7 linked regions of the Homo sapiens genome follow. The protein of the gene in region 6 purifies or fractionates together with the protein of the main gene of each other region. This does not show direct contact. Each region holds a gene or a part of one and is shown on either strand. Other genes may lie near its edges.

Region 1 (3,500 bases), on a different chromosome or scaffold from region 6:
AAAATCATCATGAACACCACTGCTAAGTAGGACTAGAATAGGAACACAATTCACATTAGAAAGTAATGGAGGAAATCACATAAGCTAAAATAAAATATCTCTTCAACTTAAATATTCTGTTTCCTAATAAAAAACTCAACTTAGGCAACAACTCCTTTTCATTAAAAGTCCATCTTTAAGTCATTCGCATAGTCTCAAGCATAACCTGCTTAATTACAAAGGGGAAAACATAACTCTAAAGCGGAGAGCTCTGAAGATCATCACATTAACAAGTGACCAAACTTAGCATCACCAACAGTGTGACAACATGACATAATGTGCCTTCTGATGGGATGCAATAAAAAATACATAACATCACTTCCACAGCACTCTTGCCAAATACGTTGAACCTGAATCTTACAATGAGTAATGAGGTAAATCCACAATGTGGGACATTCTACAAGACAACTAGCCTGGACACCTTTAAAAAGTCATGATCACGAAAACCAAAAGGTTGTGGATTAAAAGAGATTAAAGAGACCCAACAACGAAATGTAATGTGTGAAACTTGCAGGATCATCAATTTTAAAAAAAACAGCTATAAAGGGGGCATTTTGGGGGCAACTGGAAAAGCTTATACATAGACTGTATACTAAATGACATTACTGAATCAATGTTTTCAGGTGGGATTGTGGTTATGTAAGAAAATGTCATTATTCTTAGGAGATACATGCTTAAGTATTTAGAGATGAACACTCACATTGTCTGTAATTTTCAAATGGTTCATAAATATAGTTAAGTATACTTATAAAATATAGATACGCATTTCAGAATATAGAATATAGATGTCCCCGTATTTTTTAATACAAAATATAGATTCTGCACGTATATATAGGTGCTACGTATGTATACACATACACACAGAGAGAGAGAAAGAGAGAGCGCCAATGTGTCAAAATGTTAATTGGAGAATCTAGGTGAAGGATATATGGCATCTGAAATTTTTCAAAATAAAAAGTTGGAGGAAATCGGTAAGAAAGGAATACATACCATGGCAGTCCTAGACTTGATAAACCAGTCAAATCTAAACTGGGGAGCATTTCGTACACACTGTCTTAATTCTTCATATACATTTTCTCTATCAAAGCCCATTTTGTGTAACATACAAATCAAGAATCTATCTTCTTCCTCAGTATAGTTCTTTCCTTTGCTGGTTCCATACTGAATGCGCAACTGATGAAATGGAGCCTTGTATCTTGCAATCTGTGTATTTAAACAAAATAGTGCTTTTAATTGAATGTGCAGTAAGAAGTCAAAGCTGACCACTATTTCAATTAAAACGATCTAATAATAATTTGACATAAAACATAGTACTTTGGCATCCAGGGCTTTCTTGATACTGATCCTTCGTTGAATTCTTGCTTCTCCACGTTCAATTTGAGCCATAATTTTCTCAATGTCCTGTAATTCATTGCAACGTTCCCAAAATACAGCTGAAAAACAGAGTTATTTCTTTAAAATCCTATCATTTAAGCAAATAAATCCAAGGAATTGTAGAATAAGGAATTAATAGGAAAGAATACAATGAGCTTGTACTTCTTAAAATTAAGATTCAGATTAATCTTATATATATAATATGTTAAATTATTAAATACTACTAACTTTTCACTTAAAAATAAGACCTCAAAACAAGGTTTTAGGTTAGCAATTTTCCTTCATGAAATAGTACGGAGTCTTACGATCCATCCCAAATGACTAGGATTTCAAAAGATGATGCAGATACTGATTTAAGCTAGGCTTTTTACTCAAACATGATAGAAAAGGGACCAAACACATAAAGTGACACAGGAGAGAGTAATATATAAACAGTGAATATAGCTTCCTAGCATGCGAAAACAATTATGGGCCAGGCACAGTGGCTCACACTGTAATCCCAGCACTTTGGGAGGCTGAGGTGGGCAGATTGCCTGAGGTTGGGAGTTTGAGACCAGCCTGGCCAACATGGTGAAACCTCATCTCTACTAAAAATACAAAAATTAGCTGCACATGGTGGTGCGTGCCTGTAATCGCAGCTACTCGGGAAGCTGAGGCGGGAGAATTGCTTGAACCCGGAAAGTGGAGGTTGCAGTGAGCCGAGATCGCGCCACTGCACTCCAGCCTGGGCGATTAAGTGAGACTCCATCTCAAAAACAAACAAATAAACAAAAAACCCAAGCTATTATGAACAGGTTGTTCAAATTTTTTTCTATGGAGCAGCCATTTCTCTTGAAATTGTCATTTGCTTTTGGAATCACTCACTAATCATCTTACGGTATTTCCAATGACCAGTAGTGTGTTTTTAAACTTACTTGGAATACCCTTTTCTCATAAAAAAAAAAAAAAAAACCTCATTGGGATTTTAATTGCATACACACTGAAAAACATTCCAAGTCACTCAACCAAATTTTATAGATGAGCCAAATAATCTGGCTGTATTAATATGTCACATGACTTCAATGAAAGGCCTTTTAATGACATACTCCACATCCTCAAGCTTTTCATTTTTAGAGCCTATCAAGAAAGGTATGTGAGCACTCTGATTTTTATAAGCACCTGTGTTCATTTACTCATTCACTCACATATTCATTCAACAAATATTTAAACACTTGCTATGTACAGGATACTGTATATTCATGGGTGGTCAATTGTACACATTTCTTCTCTTACTGTAACCAACTACAACAAACTCATTGCAATCTCCTCACCCTGTGACATGGCCCCCAACCTGGCAGGCAGCAATTAAATAGTCCTGAGCTAGTCATGCCACCTGGCTTGGTGTCAAATTTGAAAGAAAGTCTGACAGGATCATCTTTTTAAATCACATTTTTTTCTTGCAACTTCACATACACCGATGTTATCTCCCTGCCTATCTTCTGAAAAAAATTCTTCTTAAAAATCTCTCTGCACATACCCTTTTACATTCTTTTCATTCAACTCTTGATGCTAAAATTTCTCTCTTCAATCTATTTTTTCCCCTAAGCCTCCAAATGCCCTAAATTTATGTGCTAAATGTTCAGAGTAATAGTAATATCATGCTGGTATGAAGGAAAAGGAAGTTCATATACTTAATGTTATATTATATGTAATAAAAACTCAATACAACTGACCTCTGAAGTCCCCCAGAAGACTCTTTTAGATTTCCAGAAGAAAAAAAAATCTCTCTAATTAAATCTGGATTTCTTCAAGCACTAGCATGCTAGATAAATTAAAAGCTGTTCCTAGCTATTATTAATCTTTAGTATATTTATTGGTACTGTAATGTTTCTTTCCTACTATTGCAAAAACAGAATTTCAGTGGTAGGGTTAAATAGATTTGGGGCAGGGGCTATCATAGAAACTTAAACCTACTTTGTAAACTTAAACCTACTTTGCCATTGTTTCAATGACAAAAAATGCTCTAGATTCTAAACATCTTGTTTCAAATGATAAGTTTAAGAGCTGAACCTATTTGGAAGTTAGAAAAGTCCCATGTACTACATATA
Region 2 (3,500 bases), on a different chromosome or scaffold from region 6:
TGTAGAATTGTAACCCCCAGTGTTGGAGGAGGAGCCTGGTGGGAGGTGACTGGATCACGGGGCGGAGTTCTCACGCATGGTTTAGTTTAGTACCATCTCCCCTTGGTACTGTAGAGCGAGTGAGTTCTCATTAGATTTGGTTGTTTTAAAGTGTGCCCCCACACCATCTCTCTCTTGCTGCTGCTGTCGTCATGAGACATGCCGCCTCCCCTTTACTTTCCACCATGATTGTAAGTTTCCTGAGAACGCCCCAGAAACAGAGGCCACTATCCTTCCTATACATCCTGCAGAACTGTGAGCCCATTAAACCTCTTTTCTTTATAAATTACCCAGTTTTGTTTTGTTTTGTTTTGTGTTTGTCCGTTAGTTTTTTTGAGACAGGGTCTCTCTTTCTCTCTGTCACCAAGGCTGGAATACAGTGGCACCATCTCAGCTCACTGCAATGTCTGCCTCCTGGGCTCAAGAGATGCTCCTGCCTCAGCCTCCTGAGTAGCTGGGACTACAGGCGAGAGCCACCACGCCTAGCTAATTTTTGTATTTTTTGTAGAGATGGGGTTTTGCCATGTTGCCCAGGATGCTCTCGAACTCCTGAGCTCAAGCCATCTTCCCGCTTCAGCCTCCCATAGTGCTGAGATTACAGGCGTGAGCAACTGCACCCAGCCAGGTATTTCTTTATAGCGATGAGAGAAGAGACTAATACATACTCCCTGCCATTTCACACCTCTGAGCCTCAGCACAGGCTGTTCCCTTTGCAGGCATGCCCTTTCCCTGCTCTTCTCTGGCAGGCAGAATTCTCTTTATTCTTAAATCATGGCCATGGCCGTGGGGGAAGCCATGCTAACCAATCACAGCAGCTCCTGGGGTTTGGGGCAAATTGTGGACCAGGCACCAGGGCAGTGTGCCCATGAATCTGCATTTCCTCCTCAAGGCAACCATGGGAGGGAGGCCTGTTCTTATTACCACTGCACAGAGGTGGAAGCAGAGACAGCAGAAGGGAGCCCAAAGTATCATGTCACATGCCAGTGGGCTGGGGTTTGAGCCACGTCTGCTCAGCTCTACTGGCCAGCTCCCAACTACCCATCCCCAACGCCAGTTAAGTGTCCCCACACCACAGCACCCTCCCTGCACCCTACCCCTACAGCTCCAGGCTGTCTGCGGGCCTCCCTGTTAGAGCCGCCGGCCTGTGGCGTGGTCATTCTTTCTATCTGTGACTGACACCCTCCCCCACCTGTGAGTCCACCAGGCCAAGCCTGGGTCTGAGTCAGCTCTGGGCCCCCAGAGCTTCGGGGGATGCTCCTTCTGCAGTGGGGAGGTACTGACAGCCACACACTCCCTCCCCTCACAGGGAGGACCAGGCTGGGTTCCAGCAAGAGGCCTCTGGGACGTTTGGGGGAGGATTGGGGATGGGGGATGGCAGGCTGCCTCCCGGGGTGTTCTCAAGCCCCAGGCCAGGGCCCACTCACTCCTGTGACATGATTGTGGCTTTTGGTCATACCACAGCATGTCCTCCTGGCCCCTCTACTGCTGTGAGGCTAGGTCTCACCTGACTGGCCAAGGGCCACTTGGCAGAATGTCTTGGGGTCCTGGTCAGTTACTGTCCCAGGTACAGACCAGGGTGCCATGTCTTACATGCTCCCCTCTGCCAGTGAGCAGGCCAGATGGCCAGGCCTCAGGCCGCCGTGTGTGCTGTCCCTCCCATGGTTCACTGGGAACCACCTGTGGGTCAGCCGGCAGCTGCACGTGGACCAGGGAGGGGCTGTGTGCACACGTGCCTTCTTTCATCTCTGCAAGGTAGGGTCATTGTCACTATTTTATTTTATTTGTTTATTTTTTGAGACAGGGACTCTCTCTGTCATCCAGGCTAGAGTGCAGTGGCACAATCCTAGCTCACTGTAGCCTTGACCTCCTGGGCTCTAACGATCCTCCCCACCTCAGCCTCCAGAGTAGCTGGAACCACAGACGTGCTCTACCACACCCGGCTAATTTTCATTTTTATTTTTTGCAGAGACAGGGTCTCTCTATGCTTCCCAGGCTTGTCTTGAACTCCTGGGCTCAAGCAATCCTCCCGCCTTGGCCCGCCAAAGTTCTGGGATTATAGGCATGAGCCACCGTACACGGCTTGACTCCTATTTTATAGATGAGGAACTGAGACTTAAAGAAGGCCACGTGCCAAGAAGTAGCCAAACCAGGGCTCACACCCAAGCCTCATGATGCCTGGACTGGTGTTCTTTCCAGATTAGTCAGCAACATTTCATTCACCAAGAATTTACTGAGCAGAGATTGTACCAGGCACCATCTTGGTTCCAGAGACGCAGTGAGGGGCAGAACAGACATCTGGAAGGCAACGAGAGCCCTCCGTTCACCAAAGCCCAATCCAGAACTACAGAGGGAGCAAAAGTTCCCTCAGGGAGCCAGGCCGAAGACCTCGGCATCCGTGCGTCCCAATCACACAGCAGATGCTTCCTCGTGGCCTATGTACTCTTACTTACACACGACGTAAATGTGGTGCCCAGACCAGGGTAGTCCAGAGCTAGGAAGTGACAAGAAGACATAGTGATTGCTGCTGGCAAGAGGATGATCCGCAGCTTGGCCTCAGTGTGTTTAGGGGCAGGTGGCAGGAAGGCCATAGGAAACCAGCCCAGTATCGCAGGCTTCAGCCGCCCGGGCCATTCAGTGCAGGGCGGAGGGCCCCCATCTTGCCCAGAGTTTGCCACCCCCATGTCACTGACACTCGTGACTCATGGCCCTGGGTCCTGAAGGTTTCTTATGTCCACCGTTCATTTTTTGAAAGAGCAAGCCTTTGCACAGTGTCCTGTCCATCGGATATTTGCTTCTCACCTACTTCCTCATCTGGCAAACTGCTATTCATGACTCAAGGCCTACTCAAAGGTCTCCTCTTGTCCTCCATGCTCCCAGGGCTCTGACTGTCCCATCCCTGGCCCTTATGGATGCTCCCAATGCACTCTGTCCATATCTCAGACACGACACTCACTCCATTGAATCTTGTAGCTTACAGGGTGAGTTCTCTACAGCAGTCACTGCTCCGTCGCCAGGGGCGCTCCAGCCAGTCAGCTTGGCTAGGACTTCATTATCTCTTTGCATGTCTGTCCACTCCACGGACTGTGGGACACAGTGGGGCTTCAAGGAGGGAGGCAGTGTGGCAAAGCGGTTAGGAGAATGGCTTTGGAGCCAGCGCACACATTCCCCATGGGGAATGCTCCTTAACCTCTTACTGCTCTTAACCGTGGGCAAGCTCCTTAACCTCTCTGTGCCTATGTCCTCATCTGTGGAAGGGGAAAGGAATTCCAACCTCATAGAGTTGTTGGGAGGAACAAATGGAGAAGATGTATGTGTTTGTTCAGTAAATAATGAGCTATCAACATGCAACCAACATTCAGGAAGCCTTCCCTGAGGTATGTGGCCTTGTTCCTACACTCCTTGAGGAATTTCTGGCACCTTCCTGTGTGTGTCAGTCTCCTGAAGTGATGAAGGGGATTTTT
Region 3 (3,500 bases), on a different chromosome or scaffold from region 6:
CGGCCCTGTCATCGGCTGTCCTTACCTCACCGGCCCCGTGTCAGGTCTCACCCCGCCCCTCTGTGTCCGCGCACCCCACCTGACTGACCCCGCATCCCCCGGCTGCACACACACCCGTCCTCCCACTCACCCGTCCTCCCCACTCACCCGTCCTCCCACTGACCCGTCCCCCCACTCACCCGTCCTCCCCACTCACCCGTCCTCCCAGGGCTCTCCCGCAGTCTCCTCGGCCACCAGGATGTCGTACTCCTCGGCCGCGTACTTCTCCCAGTCCGAGAGCTCGGGGCCGCCGCTGTCACCGTCCTGGAGGAAGCACACGGGTTACGTACACGGCGTGGCGCGGCCCGGCCCGCGTGCCCGCCGCACTCACCCTGAGCAGGGAGATCTGCTCTTTCTGCTCGTGGTCGAGGTACTTCTCGATGTTGAAGAAGGTGTCGAAGAAGACGTTAGCCAGCTTGCAGCGCTTCAGGTCCTGCAGCGTGATCTTCCCTGCGGGGAGGGGAGTGCGTCCAAGGCGCGTGAGCCCGGTCTCACCTTCGGGGCCTGGGTGTGGGGTGCGCGCGTCCTGTCACACGTGCTTAAGGACGCGGCACGAAGCTCCGGGCTCTCACGCCACGTGTTTGACGTGAAAGGCGGACACGCGAGTGTCCTGGTTCTGGGTGGGGACTGAGGCGTGGGAGGCCGTGATGCGGAGGCGACTAGGGGCCACCGGTGCCCCAAGGATGCGTGGACTGGGACTAGCGCAGGGAGGCGCGGCCAGCAGGGGCGCTGCTGGATCTGAAATTACAGAGAACGGAGCTCCCCGTGCAGGCAGAGGCCAGAGGGTGTCCCGGGGACACTGAGCAGCAGGAGGCGCCCCATGGCCGGGGGGGGCAGGGCTGCAGGGCGGTGCCCGGGCCTCAGAGCCATTTCCAAAGTGAAAGTCCCAGAGCTGGATTCTGAGATGCAGAAGGAAGCCAGGCGGCGTGGACGGTGGGGCTCCCCTTTGCCTTAGAGGGCACGGGGGTGGGTGGGAGGAGCTGGGGAGATGGTGTGGGGGGAACAGGGGTGAGGGGAGGAGCCGGGGGGGGGTGAGAGGGGAGGAGCCGGGGGGGTGAGAGGGGAGGAGCCGGGGGGGGTGAGAGGGGAGGAGCCGGGGGGGGGTGAGAGGGGAGGAGCCGGGGGGGGTGAGAGGGGAGGAGCCGGGGGGGGATGAGAGGGGAGGAGCCGGGGGGGTGAGAGGGGAGGAGCCGGGGGGGTGAGAGGGGAGGAGCCGGGGGGGGGTGAGAGGGGAGGAGCCGGGGGGGGGTGAGAGGGGAGGAGCCGGGGGGGGGGTGAGAGGGGAGGAGCCGGGGGGGGTGAGAGGGGAGGAGCCGGGGGGGGTGAGAGGGGAGGAGCCGGGGGGGGTGAGAAGGGAGGAGCCGGAGGGGGTGAGAGGGGAGGAGCCGGGGGGGGGTGAGAGGGGAGGAGCCGGGGGGGGGTGAGAGGGGAGGAGCCGGGGGGGGGTGAGAGGGGAGGAGCTGGGGGGGGTGAGAGGGGAGGAGCCGGGGGGGTGAGAGGGGAGGAGCCGGGGGGGTGAGAGGGGAGGAGCCGGGGGGGTGAGAGGGGAGGAGATGGGGGGGGTGAGAGGGGAGGAGATGGGGGGGGTGAGAGGGGAGGAGATGGGGGGGGTGAGAGGGGAGGAGATGGGGGGGTGAGAGGGGAGGAGATGGGGGGGGTGAGAGGGGAGGAGATGGGGGGGGCGAGAGGGGGGGAGGAGCCGGGGGGGGTGAGAAGGGAGGAGACGGGGGGGGCGGGGTGAGAGGGGAGGAGACGGGGGGGGGGGGGGTGAGGGGAGGACCGCCTTGTGCGGCATCAGCACGAACGTGGCAACTGCTCCCTCAGCCCAGTGCCAACGTCCCCGGTGAGCTCCGGCCCTAGGTTCTCTAGGTCACCCCTCGGGGGGTGTCGACGCCCCGAATAGGAGGTTCTTGCACTGTGAGACTAGGCACCTGTGGTGCTGGCCCTCCTCACAAACTCAGTAGGACAGCGCCTCACAGGGACGTCCCCTCACCCTGGTCCGTCCCCCCTCCCGTCTGTCCCCTCACCCTGGGCCGTCCCCCCTCCCGTCCGTCCCCTCACCCTGGGCCGTCCCCCCTCCCGTCCGTCCCCTCACCCTGGGCCGTCCCCCCTCCCGTCCGTCCCCTCACCCTGGGCCGTCCTCCCTCCCGTCCGTCCCCTCTCCCTGGGCCGTCCTCCCTCCCGTCCGTCCCCTCTCCCTGGGCTGTCATCCGTCCCCTCTCCCTGGGCCGTCCTCTCGCCCGTCCGTCCCCTCACCCTGGGCCGTCCTCTCGCCCGTCCGTCCCCTCACCCTGGGCCATGCCCTCACGGGGCATCACCTTCAGTCCTCGGCTTGACCAGGTCCAGCATCTGGCAGAGGCAGTCCTGGAAGGGCAGGGCCTCGATGGCCATGCTGTCCAGCCTTCGGCACTGCTCCTCGTAGAAGTACTCGAGCTCGAACATGGACAGGGCGCCGTCCCCGTCCAGGTCCATGCAGCGGAACCAGTACTCGATGCTGCGGCACGGCGAGCTCTGTCAGCCCCTGCCCTGGGCCCTCCCAGCCCGTGACCTGCAGCCCCTGAGGCAGCCCCCACCGGGGGTGCACGCGTCCCCGCTGTGCCTTGCAGCCCCCACCGGGCGTGCAGGCATCCCCTGCCCCCTGCCGCCCCCACCGGGCGCGCACGCGTCCCCCTGTGCCGTGCAGCCCCCACCAGGCGTGCACATGTCCCCCTGTGCCGTGCAGCCCCCACCGGGCGTGCACATGTCCCCCTGTGCCGTGCAGCCCCCACCAGGCGTGCAGGCATCCGCCTGGGGACACATGTCACATGGGCGGCTCCCGGCCCCTCCACTGGGACAAACGCATGCCGCAGCAGGAACCCACCTGGTCGGTGTTTTTTTGTCTTCCTCAGAGATCAAAAACCAGACAAAGTCGGCATAGCTGATCTTCCCTTCCTTCTGCACTTTTCTGCCTCTAGATCGAAAGCCAGGATGGAGAGACGAAGATGCATGTCAGGGAGAGCTTCACAGGAACGGAGCCCCTGTCCACGCGCCTCGGTGAGGGGAGCCCCCCGGGCCCGGCCCTCCTCCTGCCCCCCTCCTGCCCCTCCTCCTGCCTCTCCGGGGAGGAGGTGGAGGCCCCGTGGCCAGAGGGTTTTCCCCAGATCCAGGCAGGGTCAGGAGTGCACCTTCGTTACTGCTCACTCAGGCCCAGCGCCCGACAAGAACCCCCGACCTGGGGCCTGGGCCACCCCCTTCCTCAGACTTCGCGTGACAGTCTTGTGCCACCCCCCCCCACTAGGGATTCACGTGACAGAGACACGTGCCCCCCTCGCCAGGGCCTGGGGTGACAACCACTCGCTGTCGGGGCACAAAAAGCTCACGTCAGGCAACGATGAGGAGAGGGACCGGGGTCCTCGCAGGGGCAATGGCTGCCGTCAGGCGCCTGAGCCGTACGTACCGTGTGACTGCTCCTGAGAAGATCC
Region 4 (3,500 bases), on a different chromosome or scaffold from region 6:
TACATTTCAGGCGGGCCTGTGGCAAACCACAAGTCACTCCAGGTGGCTGCTGTGCAAAGTGCCAGAGGAGAGGGGACCAGAGAAATGTCTCTGATTACAAGGCTAAAGAGTAGACTTACCAGGTGCTATGGCTTGTGCTTGTAATCCCAGCTACTTAGGAAGCTAAGACGGGAGGATCACTTGAGGCCAGGGGTTCAAGACCAGCCTGGGCAACATAGTGAGCCCCTGTGTCTACAAAAAAATTTTAAAATTAGCAGGGCATGGTGGTATGCCTGCATTCTCAACTACTTAGTAGGTGGAATGCCTGTAGTCTCAGCTACTCAGTAGGCTGAGGCAGGAGAATCACTTGAGCCCAGATTCTGAGGTTAGCAGTAAGCTATTGGTGCACCACTGCACTCCAGACTAGGCAACAGAGTGAGACCCTATCTCTTTTAAAAAAAAGAGTTGGAATCAGCCAGCCACGGTGGCTCACACCTGTAATCCCAGCACTTTGGGACGCTGAGGCGGGCAGATCACCTGAGGTCAGGAGTTCGAGACCAGCCTGGCCAACATGGCGAAACCCTGTCTCTACAAAATACAAAAATTAGCTGGACGTGGTGGTACTTGCCTGTAGTCCCAGCTACTTGGGAGGCTGAGGCAGGAGAATTGCTTGAACCCAGGAGGCAGAGGCTGCAGTGAGCCGAGATCGTGCCACTATACTCCAGCCTGGGTGACAGAGTGAGATTCTATCTCAAAAAGAAAAAAAAAGAAAAAAGAAAAAAATGGAATCTATACCTAAAAAACCTGGCTGCTAAACAGTTATAATTTTGCCATTTGAGGTGTAGAAAATTACCTTAGGAGTTTTACCTTAGCACCTCTTTTAAACCTGTTGAAATGAAACATTTTTCAGGTAGGATTTTTTCAGCAGTATACATTTGTGTGATGATCTATCTCCAATTCTTTGTCTTTGATTTTTTTTATTTCTCGTGGCTGTCTTCTTTCCAATCAGGATGTTGAGAACGATGGGCCTGAGCCCTCAGACTGGGACCGGTTTGCCGCTGAGGAGTATGAGACGCTTGTTGCAGAGGAATCTGCCCAAGCACAATTCCAGGAAGGGTGAGTAAGTTTCCCTATGTCTTATAGAATTTTTAACAGGAATGCGCATGTCCAGAGTATTAAAACCCCCTTACAAAATCCTTTTCTGTTTTTTCCATTTTTGAATAGCATAAAAATGTGATTTAGCCAACTTTAGTTAAATGATTATTTTTTCCAGCAATCTTCACTCATTTCCTGACAGAGTCTTCTCATGTCCATTTCCTTTAATGAGTCTCATCTTTCACTGGAAACCGAGATCACTGAACAATCAAACTACTGTTTTAGTGATATTGATAAACCCTGTACATAAAGGAGGAGGCTAAAAGAACTAAAGCTCTGGCCGGGCACGGTGGCTCACGCCTGTAATCTCAGCACTTTGGGAGGCCGAGGCGGGTGGATAACCAGAGGTCGGGAGTTTGAAACCAGCCTGACCAACATGGAGAAACCCTGTCTCCACTAAAAATACAAAAAAATTAGCCGGGTATGGTGGTGCATGCCTGTAATCCCAGCTACTTGGAAGGCTGAGGCAGGAGAATCGGCTTTTACCCGGGAGGCAGAGGTTGCAGTGAGCCGAGATCATGCCATTGCACTCCAGCTTGGGCAACAAGAGCAAAACTCCGTCTCCAAAAAAAAAAAAAAAAAAAAAAAAAAAACTAAAGCTCCTTCAATAATAATAAAGATGATCATGTTTAGAACAAATCTTTATTATACATGGTTTTGTGCAGGAAGTAACTTCTACATGTATTTCTACTAGTCAGGGCATAATTCCATAAAGGGACCATGTTAAGAAATTTAATTATCCAAGAATTTGACTCCTTGGATCACTTCAGCAACTTTATAATTTGCTGGTTTTTTCCATCATCTTCTAGTAACTCCTTTTGTAATTCTTCTAATTCTTCCTTAGTCATAGCTTCTGTAAAGGCCTCAATTAATCTTTCTCATTAATGTAGTGTACTTTTTGAACAGGCACTATTCATATAATATTCAAAGAAACAAAAGAAATAGTAAAAAGTTTCCTACTACCCACTTCTCCTCCCCAGAAGCAACAAGTGTCATCATGTTCTTGCTTACTCTTCCAAAGAGCCTCTCTCTCCACCTATCTATGTATATTTAGAAAGATACATGAATTCTTTTTTTTTTTTTTTTTTTTTTTTGAGACAGTCTCAAATGTGGTCTCTGATGTGGTCCATTCAGGTCAGCCTCCTGAGGCATAGAGATAGAGGAAGAGCAGGTCTAGAGGGATAAACAGAAACTATCCAGCCCCATAGATAAAGTCAAATAGTCCTCAATATAGATTGTACCATTTTATACCTCTACCATTCATTAAATATTATCTTTTTTGAGGGTGCTGAACAAGCCATCAGCAAAGAGCTTTCTTTCACTGAGAGATTTCTTTAACCTGCTTAGCCACAAAACTAGGATTTCATTTTTATGGCAGTGACCTGGAAACCCTTAAAATCATTCATCGTGCACTCAGTATCTTAAGCCTGACTGCATCAGAATATAGGAAAATGGATTCACAAGCATGATTTAAAGGTTTTTTTGGCATTGAGCTTCCATACTAGGAATTAGGGTTAGCATACCAATCTTAAGAAGCAACAATGCTGCAGTTAAGAATATGTGTGGATTGGCCAGGCGCAGTCACTCATGGCTGTAATCCCAGCACTTTGGGAGGCTGAGGCAAACAGATCACTTGAGCCCAGGAGTTCGAGACCAGCCTGGGCAATGTGGCGAAACCCCATCTCTACAAAAAATACAAAAGTTAGCCAGGTGTGATGGTGTGTGCCTGTAGTCCCAGCTACTCAGGAGGCTGAGGTGGGAGGATCACTTGAGTATGGGAGGCAGAGGCTGCAGTGAGCTGAGATTATGCCATTGCACTCCAGCCTGGCCTGCAGAGCTAGCTAGACCCTGACACACACACACACAGCAAGTGTGGATGTTTATAATAGTGAAAATTTGGAGGCAATCTAGGTATCTAATGGGAAGATTAATAAAATTATACTACATGTACCCAGTACAGTTCCATTAAGCATTAAAATCATTTTGTGGATGTGTACTTCTGGACTTTAATTAGGAAAAACGGGATGAGGAAGAAGACTATGAAAGATCAAGTAAAATGTAATAGAAAAGAAACAAAAAAAGTATCCAAAAGAAAATTAGGTATAGGTAAGGAAAGCAAATGGGATCTTATTTATGTGTTTTAGACAAAAGAATATATGAAATAGTAAAGTATATTAAAAGACAATAGGAAAGCTTTTTTGAAATAAAAGAAAACCTGAATAGGAAAGGTCAGAAATCACGCCATATCCAGGAAATACTGATAATGAATAGTGATGGACCCCAGATTTGCATTGTGAATTTACTAGAACTCAAGGATGAATAAAGGTTTATCATTGGGTTTTTTTTTTCCAGTTTTAAAAATTCAA
Region 5 (3,500 bases), on a different chromosome or scaffold from region 6:
GGACTGGATGTATTTGTCAAAACTTACTGCATTATACACTTAAAATTGATAAATATATTGTATATAAATAGTACCTCAATAAAACTGGTTTTTAAAATGGAACGAAAAGAAAAATGTAAGTTTGAGAGCAGGTATATTAGTCTGTTCTCACATTGCTATAAAGAAATACCTCTAGCATGGCCAATATAGGGAAACCCCATCTGTACTAAAAATATAGAAATTACCAGGTGTAGTCACATGCTTGTAGTCCCAGCTACTCACGAGGCTGAGGCACAAGAATCACTTGAACCTAGGAGGCGGAGGTGGCAGTAAGCTGAGATTGTGCCACTGTACTCCAGCCTGGGTGACAGAGCGAGACTCTGTCAAAAAAAAAAAAAAAAAAAAAAAACCGAGACTGGGTAATTTATAAATAAAAGAGGTTTAATTGGTTCATGGTTCTGCAGGCTATACAGGAAGCATAGCAGCTTCTGCTTCTGGGGAGGCCTCAGGAAACTTACAATCACGGCAGAAGGCAAACAGGGAGCCGGCACTTCACATGGCCAGAGAAGAAGGAAGAGAGCGGGGAGGTGTTACACACTTTTAAACAACTAGGTCTCATGATAACTCACTCACTATCATGAGAATGGCACAGAGAGGATGGTGCTAAACCATTAATAAAGGATCCACTCCCATGATCCAATCACCTCCCACCAGGCCCCACCTCCAACCCTGGGGATTACAACTGGACATGAGATTTAGGTGGAGACACAGATCCAAACCATATCAGCAGGTGTCTGTCACCCCACTTCCTCCGACAATGCAGTTAAACAGAAGTGCCACCATGCATCAGCACTAGTTACTAGGAAGGGCAACCACATGCCAGATAGTGGAAACTTCAAGGACTTTCTGCTAATTGTTGATTAGACTCGATTAGAAGAGAAATAACAGGAGGCTGAGGCAGGAGAATCATTTGAACCCAGGAGGTGGAGGTTGCAGTAAGCCAAGATCGTGCCGTTGCACTGCAGCCTGGGCAACAGGGCGAGACTTCATCTCAAAAAAAAAAGAGAGAGAGAAATAAACTAGGACCAAGGAAGTAGCTTGGTCTCCAAGAAATAAGTAGAGATCCTGGATACACACAAAACCTGCTAACTTGCAGAGGCCAGGACAGGCCCTGAATAAGCATGGGACCCTCCATTTGGAGTTCTCAGCTGCTCTGGAATGGTGGTATCTGAGGGCACCCCTTAGACCTAGAATTTTCACCAAGCTTAAGGCCTCAGGTAAAGACAGTGGATTTTCTTCTTCTTTTTTTTTTTTTTTTTTTTTTTGAGACAGAGTCTTGCTCTGTTGCCCAGGCTCGAATGCAGTGGTGCAATCTCAGCTCACTGCAACCTCCAACTCCTGGGTTCAGGCAATTCTCTCTGCCTCAGTCTCCCGAGTAGCTAGGATTACAGGTGCCTGCCACCACGCCTGGCTAATTTTTTTGTATTTTTAGTAGAGACAGGGTTTCACCATCTTGCCCCAGCTGGTCTTGAACTCCTGACCTCGTGATCCACCCACCTTGGCCTCCCAAAGTGCTGGGATTACAGGCATGAGGACCGCGCCTGGCCGAGGGTGGATTTTCTTAAACCTCCTGGGCAGGCCACATGCCCTGGAAATAAGACAGGCTGAGAACTGAAGGAGCCTTTCCTGAAGAATGGGTCAATAAGTAGCCAACTCCAGACAGCTGGTTCTGCAGAAGCAGCGGGGCAGCAGCAGCAGCAAGAAGGACCAAGCAGAAAGAGGAGGCCCCTGATCACACAGGAGGGCAGCACAGCCACCCCAAAAGGGCTCCAGTGAGGGCCAACAGGACTAGCTGAATTCCAGATAAGCCCAGGGCACTGACCACACGCACTCGGCTTCGTTCCCCAAACCCTATGAAAACAACAGTGAAGACTATGAAAGGCATAAATTGCTTTTATGGGAGAATGGGAAGGGAGCAAGCAGCAGATGAGATTTCAACAACTTTTGGAAAGGCAGGAAGTGAAATAGTCACAAAGGAGGGGCCAGAGGGGAAGCAAGCTATATGTCCCATTGGCATGCGCAGGCATGAGGGACCACGGGAGGCTGGGGTAAGGCATGGAGCTAGAAGCAGGGCTGCAAGTTTGAACAGGCTGTTGGGGTCCTGGGTCCGCTCCCAGCACCTACCCACCCACCCAAGAGATCATATCTCCCAAAGCCACTCTTCACCAGAGAGTGGCAGTTTATTCTAGAGACTTTACCCATAAAGGCTGAGGAGTCAGGGACCAGACGTAGCAGAGGCCAAGTGGAGGCATGAGGCTAAAATCAGGAAGCAGGTGAAGTATTCCTACTCACCTGGGTGACCCTGTCCCTCTCCCCACACTGGTTCTCAGACACCAGCAGAGGAGTATGCGCACCCCACCAGCCCTGCAGAAGGCTGGTGAAGTCTTCCCTGGAAAACTGACAGATACCCCCAAAAAGAGACTTCCACACATACATTTTCCCTAGCAGTCAAAAAGTGAGCCTGAGATCTGATCACTCTACAGAAAACCCTGTGGTCAGGCCTTGGGAACTATAACTTCTAGTGGATATTTTCCACATATCCCCATTTTCTTTCATTTTTTTTGAGACAGAGTCTCGCTCTGTCGCCCAGGCTGGAGTGCAGTGGCGCAATCTCAGCTCATTGCAACCTCTGTCTCCCGGGATGAAGTGATTCTCCTGCCTCAGCCTCTCGAGTAGCTGGGTTTACAGACATGCTGAGTCACCACGCCCAGCTAATTTTTGTATTTTTAGTAGAGACGGGGTTTCACCATATTGGCCAGGCTGGTCTCAAACTCCTGACCTCAGGTGATCCATCCGCCTCGGCCTCCCAAAGTGCTGGGATTACAGGCATGAGCCACTGTGCCCAGCCAAATTCCCATTTTCAACAATGCCCTGCCCTTGCTTGAAACCCAGGCCCCCAGTGCCTGAGTTCCAGAAGACCTTGACAATAGTGAGTGCTCAAAAGGGCGAGATCGTTCTTTCTTATTGTTGTTCTTACGACTAATTCTCATCAAAACTCTTCTTCGTAGATGCGCAGATTTAAGTGTCCTCTACTCTGTCACATCAGCCTTCCTAACTCGTCTTCATTTTCTACCTTAATATATTTAGGGTGCGTTTGTGTGCAAGTGTGTATAAAAATATATGCCTTCTCATTTCATCAAAACTGGAGATTTATGTTTCTATTTCTTGTGTTCCTGGTCATTTTAGATGATTTCCAAGATATGTCTTTAATCTACCCTCTTAAAACTAAATAATTAAATGACCATATTTCTAAAATGTAGCATTTAAAGGGAACATGGCTTTTAAAATCATCACGGCATACAAAATATCATTATTAAATGGATCACTTTGTGCTAAAAGTCAATCATTTCTATTGTCATAATATTCAGCAAATGTCACCAAAAATCACTAGAGGTCCTTAGCTATCAGCAGCTGCTTATGGAGAGACATTTCTTTAACAGTCCAGGTTGCCACTAACTGCC
Region 6 (3,500 bases):
CGCAGGGGAGTGCCCTCCTCCTCGTAAGCAGGGCCCGGGGCTGCGCGGCGCAGCTCCCACTCGCCAGGCGGCAGGGGGCTCTCAGCCACCACCACGTACCGCCCCGCCGGGAAATAGCCAGGCGGCAGCAGTAGCTTGGGGTGGTGGGCGACCAGCTCTCTGCTGCCGGCTGGGACCCAGGCCCCGCGGTGACGATGGGTCTTGGGAGGGGAGAGAGGCTGCAGAAAGGAGATGTCGGGGCTGCTGCTGCCCGGCGAAGTGGGGTGGGAGATGCTGGAGACGTCAGAGCCACTGTCTTCTGAGCAGGAGTGGCAGGCGGCGTGGGGCAGCGGGGGCTTGGTCGCGGGAAAGCAGGAATCTGGCACTGTCACCGTGTAGTGAGTGGGGCGGCGGCGGGGAAAGGCGCTGCGACCTCGGCCCTCAGGACCCGCCCGGAAGGAATCCACCCTGAAGAGGGAAAGAGAGGCATTCTGAGTGTGGGGGGCAGAAACTCCACACTGGGGTTGGGGCGGGAGGTGGAGTTAAAACAGGTGAGTCCTGCTCTACCTCAAGGCCCAAGCATGGCCCTCGTGCAAGGGTCTTAGGTCAAGTCTCCCAAAGCAAACCAACAAACCCTCTGCCGGGCTGCGTGGGTGCCAACGCATTCCTTCCCTGTGTGCAAAAGTGTTCCTGCTGCATTCACAAGCTTGTGATTCGTGTAAAGTGTGCTACATCAAGTAGCACATTAAGTACTTTTTTTAAAGTACTACATTAAGTACTTTTTTTAAAGTACTACATTAAGTACTTTTTTAAAGTACTACATTAAGTACTTTTTTTAAAGTACTACATTAACTACTTTTTTTAAAGTACTACATTAACTACTTTTTTTAAAGTACTACATTAAGTACTTTCAGCTTAGGTACACCGTGTCCAGTGGCAGATCATCCACAGCATCTGTTCGGTAGGCACTGCCAGGTACCTTACTTGAACGTGTAAAAGCTGTCATGTGGTACCCAGAGCAGTTACCTGCAGCCCAAGACCGGCAGGGGCTGAAATCCAGCCTTCACTTCACTCTACTAATGCACCCAGGTATGGGGCTGTGTCTGCCTTTTCCTAATTTGCACAAAGGCATGGTTTGTAAAATGGCCCTCGTAGCATGTAAAATATAAAATCTATTGCTGTGTGGTGGCGGACGCCTGTAATCCTAGCTACTCAGGAGGCTGAGGCAGGAGAATCGCTTGAACCTGAGAGGCGGAGGTTGCAGTGAGCAAAGATTGCGCCACTATACTCTAGGCTGGATGACAGAGCAAGACTCTGCCTCAAAAAAAATTTAAAAATTAAACAAAATCCATTGCTTTACTTGAGAGCAGTTGTCCCAAGCTGCCCCCAGTTCAGTGCTGCCTGACCAGCCAATTTAAGCTGATGGAGAATTCAGCAGTGCTTTCATGGTGCCCCAGTCCCCATATGGTATGGCCAATACTGCCTGTCAACGCTTAGCCATTTAAACTATTACCAAGTAGCAGATGACTTAGAAAGTAACATACAGTCAATTCTCATTATTTGCAGATTCAGTATTTGTAATTTTCCTAGTTGCTAAACTTTATTTTTAATCCCCAAAGCAATATACACAGTGCTTTCATGGTCATTCTTGGACACTGCAGAAAAGTGACAAATTTGAGTCTCTTTAAGTTCTGAGGTTAAACGAGGCCATGTTCTGCCCTCATGTTTCAGTTCTCATGCTGTAAGTGCACAGTGTCCTTTTTGTGGCATATTTATGTACTGTGTGTGTTTTTGCTTTGATTAGTGATTCTGCTGTTTAAAATGCCCCCAAATACAGTGCCAAAGTGCTGTCTACTGTTCCTCCCTAAGGCATACTGGGAAAAGGCTGTGGTGTGCCTTGTGGAGAAAATATGTGTGCTAGGTAAGCTTCATCTGGGTATGAGTTACAGTGCTGTTGGCCATGAGTTAATGAATCAACAACCCATATTAAGTAAGGTGTCCTTAAGCAGAAACTCACATAACATAAGGTTATATATTAATCAGTTGATGCAAAATGTCGTGACCAAAGGCTCACGGGAACCTAACCCTATATTTCCCCAGGGGCAAGGGTTCAGTATTTGCTAATTCAGGATTTGCGTCAATTTTACTTTATAGAACATAACTACCACAGATAATGAGAATCAACTGTGCATCAATTGAAAAAGTGAGTTGCCTATTGTCAGTGACCAATAATAATCTACCAGCACAAGGAAACATGGCAAGGGTAGAAAATTTGAATCAAGTTATGCAAAAAGACAAAACTAGAGTCTTTGGAAGAAAACCACTTGCTTCATGGATGGCCTTTGGCTTAGTGGGGTGCAGTGCATTCTCTGTCAAGAGGCGCCCCAAGAAGAGATCCTAAGAGAAGTCAAGGCACTAGCCATGTGTCACCCAGGGTTGTCCCACCTGTGTCCTGGGAGCTCCCACCCTCCAACGATAAGCTCTAAGTGGGTCCCCCATCTCTCTGGGGAAGCTGTCTCTTACCTCAGAGACTGCGACTGGCCCCTCCTCCCCTGTATCTCAGGGGTGGCTGGGGCACTGGTGCGGCCCTGCCACTGGCCAGGAACACCACGGATGGGAACCACGTGGTAGGAGGCAGGCTCCAGAAGCCACAGGCTGGAGGCACTGGGCCCATCCTGTGGTGTGGTGGCTGGGCTGCTGCAAAAGGATTAGAGACAGGTCAGTGGCAGGAATGCCTCCATTCAGGGGCTCAAGAGGTGCAGAAGAATGGGGATGCAGTGGAAGGGGCTCCCAAAGTTAGTAGGGCAAACTGCCAGCACCCTTGGGGAACTATCAAGGCTCACACCTCCATCCCACGACTGCAGGAGCTCTCTCCTCCACCTTTCCACTTTTCCATCTGCCCAGCCTATAGCCATCCCCAGCATAGCTCCCACCGACTCCCTGCCCTGCCCTGCCCTTCTCCCTTCCCCCTGATCCTGACCTGGACTCGCTCCAGGGCTCAGAAGACTTCCTGGGCTTCTCATAGGGGTGGTCCAGGCTGGTTTCCTTCCAGGGGCTGTTCTGGACTGGAGCCCGTTCTGGGCTCCCAGCCTCAGGTCCTGTTGGCTGCAGACCCTCAAGGGTTTGGGGTGGGAGAGGCCGAGAAGGTGGGGCTGGAGACTCTGGAGGAGGTTTTGGCACTTGGGATTCCTCTGCAGGAGTAAAAGAAACCTGGTAAGGCCAGAGGCTGGGGGAACCGGCCCAACAAGAACCTCCACAAACCACAGCCCATGCCTCGCCGCTCTCCCTCCCATGCTGGCTTGTGCAGCTGCTGCAGGCCATGGCTCCAGCCCTAGATGCTCAAACATGTTTTCTTCTCCTTTGGGACTTACTTCTTCCCACACAGCCCTATTTTATGCCTTCCTCCTTCAAGAAGCCTCCCAGATTGACTCTCTTGGGCTTACAGTGCTCCACTTTCTAACCTTTGTTCCTGGTACCATGTCTGCAGTTATCTTTTGTTTACCTATTTTTCTTGTTCCTGC
Region 7 (3,500 bases), on a different chromosome or scaffold from region 6:
GTAGCATCCCAAGATGTTCTTTGTAAAGGTCTTTAAACCCAATAATATTTCCATAAAATTATAAACGATACATTCTTGGATATTCTTTTTCTAGTCAACCTTGTACTGATTCTAACCTTTCCTTTTAATACTCACAATCTGAGTCTGTGATAGCCATGCAGTCCTACAAAATTGTGGAATCAAATCATACAAATATTTGCTGAAGCACCCACTTAGTAGGATCAGAAATGCAAATACGGCTGGGCACGGTGGCTCACGCCTGTAATCCCAGCACTTTGGGACGCCAAGGTGAGTGGGTCACTTGAGGTCAAGAGTTCGAGACCAGCCTGACCAATATGGTGAAACCCTGTTTCTACATAAAAAAAAAAATTAGCTGGGCATGGTGGCTAATCCTGTAATCCCAGCTACTCGGGAGGCTGAGGCAGGAGAATCGCTTGAACCTGGGAGGCGGAGATTGCAGTGAGCCGAGATCGAGCCATTGCACTCCAACCTGGGTGACAGAGGGAGACTCCGTCTCAAAAAAAAAAAAAAAGAAAAAGAAATGCAAACAAATTTAAAATGTCTCTTTTCCAGGTTCTTAGCAAAGATTATATGCAAGTCTGAGATATGCTTGAGTATTCTTAAGTGAATTTTGAATGAGCCTCTTTCATTTAGTGTTTAGAACTTAGTTTAAAAAAGAATGAATATATCATAGTAACTCAAAAAGGCTAACCTAAGTACACTGATTGGAAAAATGTACAGTTTAAATTATATACCAATATGTTATGCTTCTTATTTTCCTAACTGAAATGTAAGCATTTTTTTTAGAGCCAGAGCCAGGGAATGCCTCTTGTTTCTAGTCTTTACTTGCAAAATTTAAATAGTTATAATTATTTGCCCCTTATGATTAAGGAGCTCCTTCCCAAAGCAGCATCTACTCTTAGCTAAATTAAACTCTTTATTTCCAGGCCTGCCTTACATTTGCCTAAAGAAAACAGTTTCTCATATTACCAAAGTTCTTTGACATGTTAAAATTTATATAAATGTTCCAAGAGAGAGCATTGAAGTTGTGGAATGCTGTAGGTTTTAGCACTTATTTTTAAATTGCAGGTTCTTACAGTCAAGTTACATTTCTCTCATCTATTTATAATCAGGATTAAATCTTCTGGCATATCTTTATCCTCTTGATTTTAACACTTAAAGATAGGAAATCTTCAAAAATTTTTTATCATGTACTGGCCCCACAGGTAAAATAAAACTTCGAACATGTTATCTTTAGTATGTCTGTTTATTTATACACCATATATGTACTATTGTTACTATATTATGAAACACAAAAGTAAGCCTTTGGAAAGGATGAGATAATAAAGGTAAAATAATAAATAATTCTAAACTTATACTTACTAAAGATAAAAATCTTTTGCAATATAATTAAATATTAAATATGCTTTTTTTTAAAAATTATGGCTTAACATTTTAATGGTGTGGTTTCTAAGTTTACCTAATTTTAATGGCTCTCAGAACTGAAAGTTATAGTTGACAACAAATGTAGATCCAGGTGGAAGAAGGCCATAATTATGCTTATTAAATAATGATTTATTTTTCAGCTATAGATGTCTATCTTCCCTGATATCAATAATTTATTCTTATAAATCAATGAAAATATTTTTACATATTTTACAATGGGTTAAAAATTATTATTATTATTATTTTTTGAGACGGAGTTTCACTCTTTTTGCCCAGGCTGGAGTGCAATGGCATGATCTTGGCTTACCCCAAACTCCTCCCGAGTTCAAGCGATTCTCCTGCCTCATTCTCCTGAGTAGCTGGGATTACAGGCATGCACCACCACACCCAGCTTTTTGTATTTTTAGTAGAGACGAGGTTTCTCCATGTTGGTCAGGCTGGTCTTGAACTCCCGACCTCAGGTGATCGGCCCACCTTGGCCTTCCATAGCGCTGGGATTACAGGCGTGAGCCACTGCGCCTGGCCCCAAAGTTAAAAATTCTTAGTTTCGAAGACTTTAAGTTAGAAAATTTTGTTTCTGAGACAGATTTTTGGCAACAAAATTTTATAACAATGGTAATATATCCAAACCAAAGGCTCCCTGTATTGCATGAAGGTAGATATACTTGGTATCTTTAGCTGAACTTTGAATGAGCCTCTTTCATTTAGTATTTAGAACCTAATTCAAAAAAGAATGAATAAGTACTTTCTCAGTTGTTTTTTAAATGTCACCTTTACCTTGAAGGACAAGATTAAAAGATTGTGTGTGGTACTTTTTAAAAATATGTTAGCACATTACTGACAACTATTTATTATCACCAGAAAGATAAACTTGAAACTTCAATTTTTTGCTTCAATTTCCATGGTTTGTCTTGGCTTTGAATGATGATATTTCTTCCCTAAAACAAAATTAAATTTTTCTGTTAGACTTTTTGAGAAAATTATAGTAGTTGTATTTTTAAAATTTTTTCTAAATTGAAAAATAGAAATGTGAAGGCAATTTAATAGACTGTTTTTAATTATTAAAGTTTTATAATTCTAAATGAAATATTTGTTTTAGGTTCAGTTCCGGAAGGTGTCTTAGAGGACATTAAAGGTAAACTAAGTTCTCATTTTTGTCCCTTTCATCCTTAAGTGTTACTTTGGAGGGCATATGCTTCTAAACATTTACACAGATAGAAAATATATTCATAATGTAATATCCTAAAAGTATTTAATATATAGGTTATGGGATACTCTAAGTACAAATTCCACTTTTTTTTCACACTTAGGGAAGCTGTGGCATAGTGATGATGTGTTACTGAAGCAGCTTCTCAATTGTATACAGAGTATACAGGGTTACCAGGGAACTAGTATTTTGCAGTGTGAAAGAACAGTTAAATTGCTTAAGAAAGCTACTGGTTTGATGTAGTATAATGTTTTTTACTCTAGTTTTCTTTATACATTTTTCTAAGAACTTCCGGAATTGTGACCAAAGTACTACACAGTACATTGTTTTCACCTAAGTGAGATTTATTGCTTCTACTTTGCTAGGGTGAATTTCTATGATAAAGTTCAAATTGGGTTTTCTGGTATTTTTATTCACTAAAATAAAATACATTTAAAATATAATCTTCAATACTTGGCATGTCATTAATGTTAATAATTTAGGATGTTTAATAGATAGACAGTAATGGATTTTAGAGTTAAATGAGAGCTGGAGATAATCTAATACAGTTGGGGCTGTGAAATGTTATTTGTCCAGTGTCACACAAGTAGGTAGGGTTAGAGCTCAGGCTACAAAATAGATCTTGCTTTCCATTATATTACCTATTATTTTTTATGTGTTTTAATTACCTAAATTCTTTTCAATTGTTATAAAATTTCAATCATTTGTAATGCTTATTACAGTAGTTCAAATAATACAGAAATATCTCAGGTAAAATGGTTTCCTTTCCTCTCTTCCATTTCTATCCTCCGTGATATAACAGTTGTTGACCATGTGGAGTGTTTTCTTTTCATATGACCTCCAACCT

What was found.
Region 1: the proteins of INAVA (region 6) and SMARCA1 purify together in Homo sapiens (affinity purification with mass spectrometry; one large-scale study listed by BioGRID and IntAct). This does not show direct contact.
Region 2: the proteins of INAVA (region 6) and HHIPL1 purify together in Homo sapiens (co-immunoprecipitation; one large-scale study listed by IntAct). This does not show direct contact.
Region 3: the proteins of INAVA (region 6) and PPP2R3B purify together in Homo sapiens (affinity purification with mass spectrometry; 2 studies listed by BioGRID and IntAct, with this or other methods). This does not show direct contact.
Region 4: the proteins of INAVA (region 6) and PPP2R3A purify together in Homo sapiens (co-immunoprecipitation; one large-scale study listed by IntAct). This does not show direct contact.
Region 5: the proteins of INAVA (region 6) and CRTAP purify together in Homo sapiens (affinity purification with mass spectrometry; 2 studies listed by BioGRID and IntAct, with this or other methods). This does not show direct contact.
Region 7: the proteins of INAVA (region 6) and ACTR10 purify together in Homo sapiens (affinity purification with mass spectrometry; 2 studies listed by BioGRID and IntAct, with this or other methods). This does not show direct contact.

What each region holds. Positions count from the first base shown.
Region 1 is NC_000023.11:129,464,491-129,467,990, forward strand, and holds part of SMARCA1 (SWI/SNF-related matrix-associated actin-dependent regulator of chromatin subfamily A member 1), read right to left. Parts: intron 1,473-3,500; coding exon 1,354-1,472; intron 1,243-1,353; coding exon 1,030-1,242; intron 1-1,029.
Region 2 is NC_000014.9:99,648,129-99,651,628, reverse strand, and holds part of HHIPL1 (HHIP-like protein 1 isoform a precursor), read right to left. Parts: intron 1-3,500.
Region 3 is NC_000023.11:338,408-341,907, forward strand, and holds part of PPP2R3B (serine/threonine-protein phosphatase 2A regulatory subunit B'' subunit beta), read right to left. Parts: coding exon 3,476-3,500; intron 2,990-3,475; coding exon 2,900-2,989; intron 2,534-2,899; coding exon 2,358-2,533; intron 490-2,357; coding exon 371-489; intron 304-370; coding exon 197-303; intron 1-196. UniProt on the Homo sapiens protein: The B regulatory subunit might modulate substrate selectivity and catalytic activity, and might also direct the localization of the catalytic enzyme to a particular subcellular compartment.
Region 4 is NC_000003.12:136,105,228-136,108,727, forward strand, and holds part of PPP2R3A (serine/threonine-protein phosphatase 2A regulatory subunit B'' subunit alpha), read left to right. Parts: intron 1-988; coding exon 989-1,095; intron 1,096-3,500. UniProt on the Homo sapiens protein: The B regulatory subunit might modulate substrate selectivity and catalytic activity, and might also direct the localization of the catalytic enzyme to a particular subcellular compartment.
Region 5 is NC_000003.12:33,120,514-33,124,013, reverse strand, and holds part of CRTAP (cartilage-associated protein isoform 1 precursor), read right to left. Parts: intron 1-3,500. UniProt on the Homo sapiens protein: Necessary for efficient 3-hydroxylation of fibrillar collagen prolyl residues.
Region 6 is NC_000001.11:200,908,400-200,911,899, reverse strand, and holds part of INAVA (innate immunity activator protein), read right to left. Parts: intron 3,171-3,500; coding exon 2,960-3,170; intron 2,677-2,959; coding exon 2,503-2,676; intron 448-2,502; coding exon 1-447. UniProt on the Homo sapiens protein: Expressed in peripheral macrophages and intestinal myeloid-derived cells, is required for optimal PRR (pattern recognition receptor)-induced signaling, cytokine secretion, and bacterial clearance.
Region 7 is NC_000014.9:58,217,149-58,220,648, forward strand, and holds part of ACTR10 (actin-related protein 10), read left to right. Parts: intron 1-2,545; coding exon 2,546-2,581; intron 2,582-3,500. UniProt on the Homo sapiens protein: Part of the dynactin complex that activates the molecular motor dynein for ultra-processive transport along microtubules.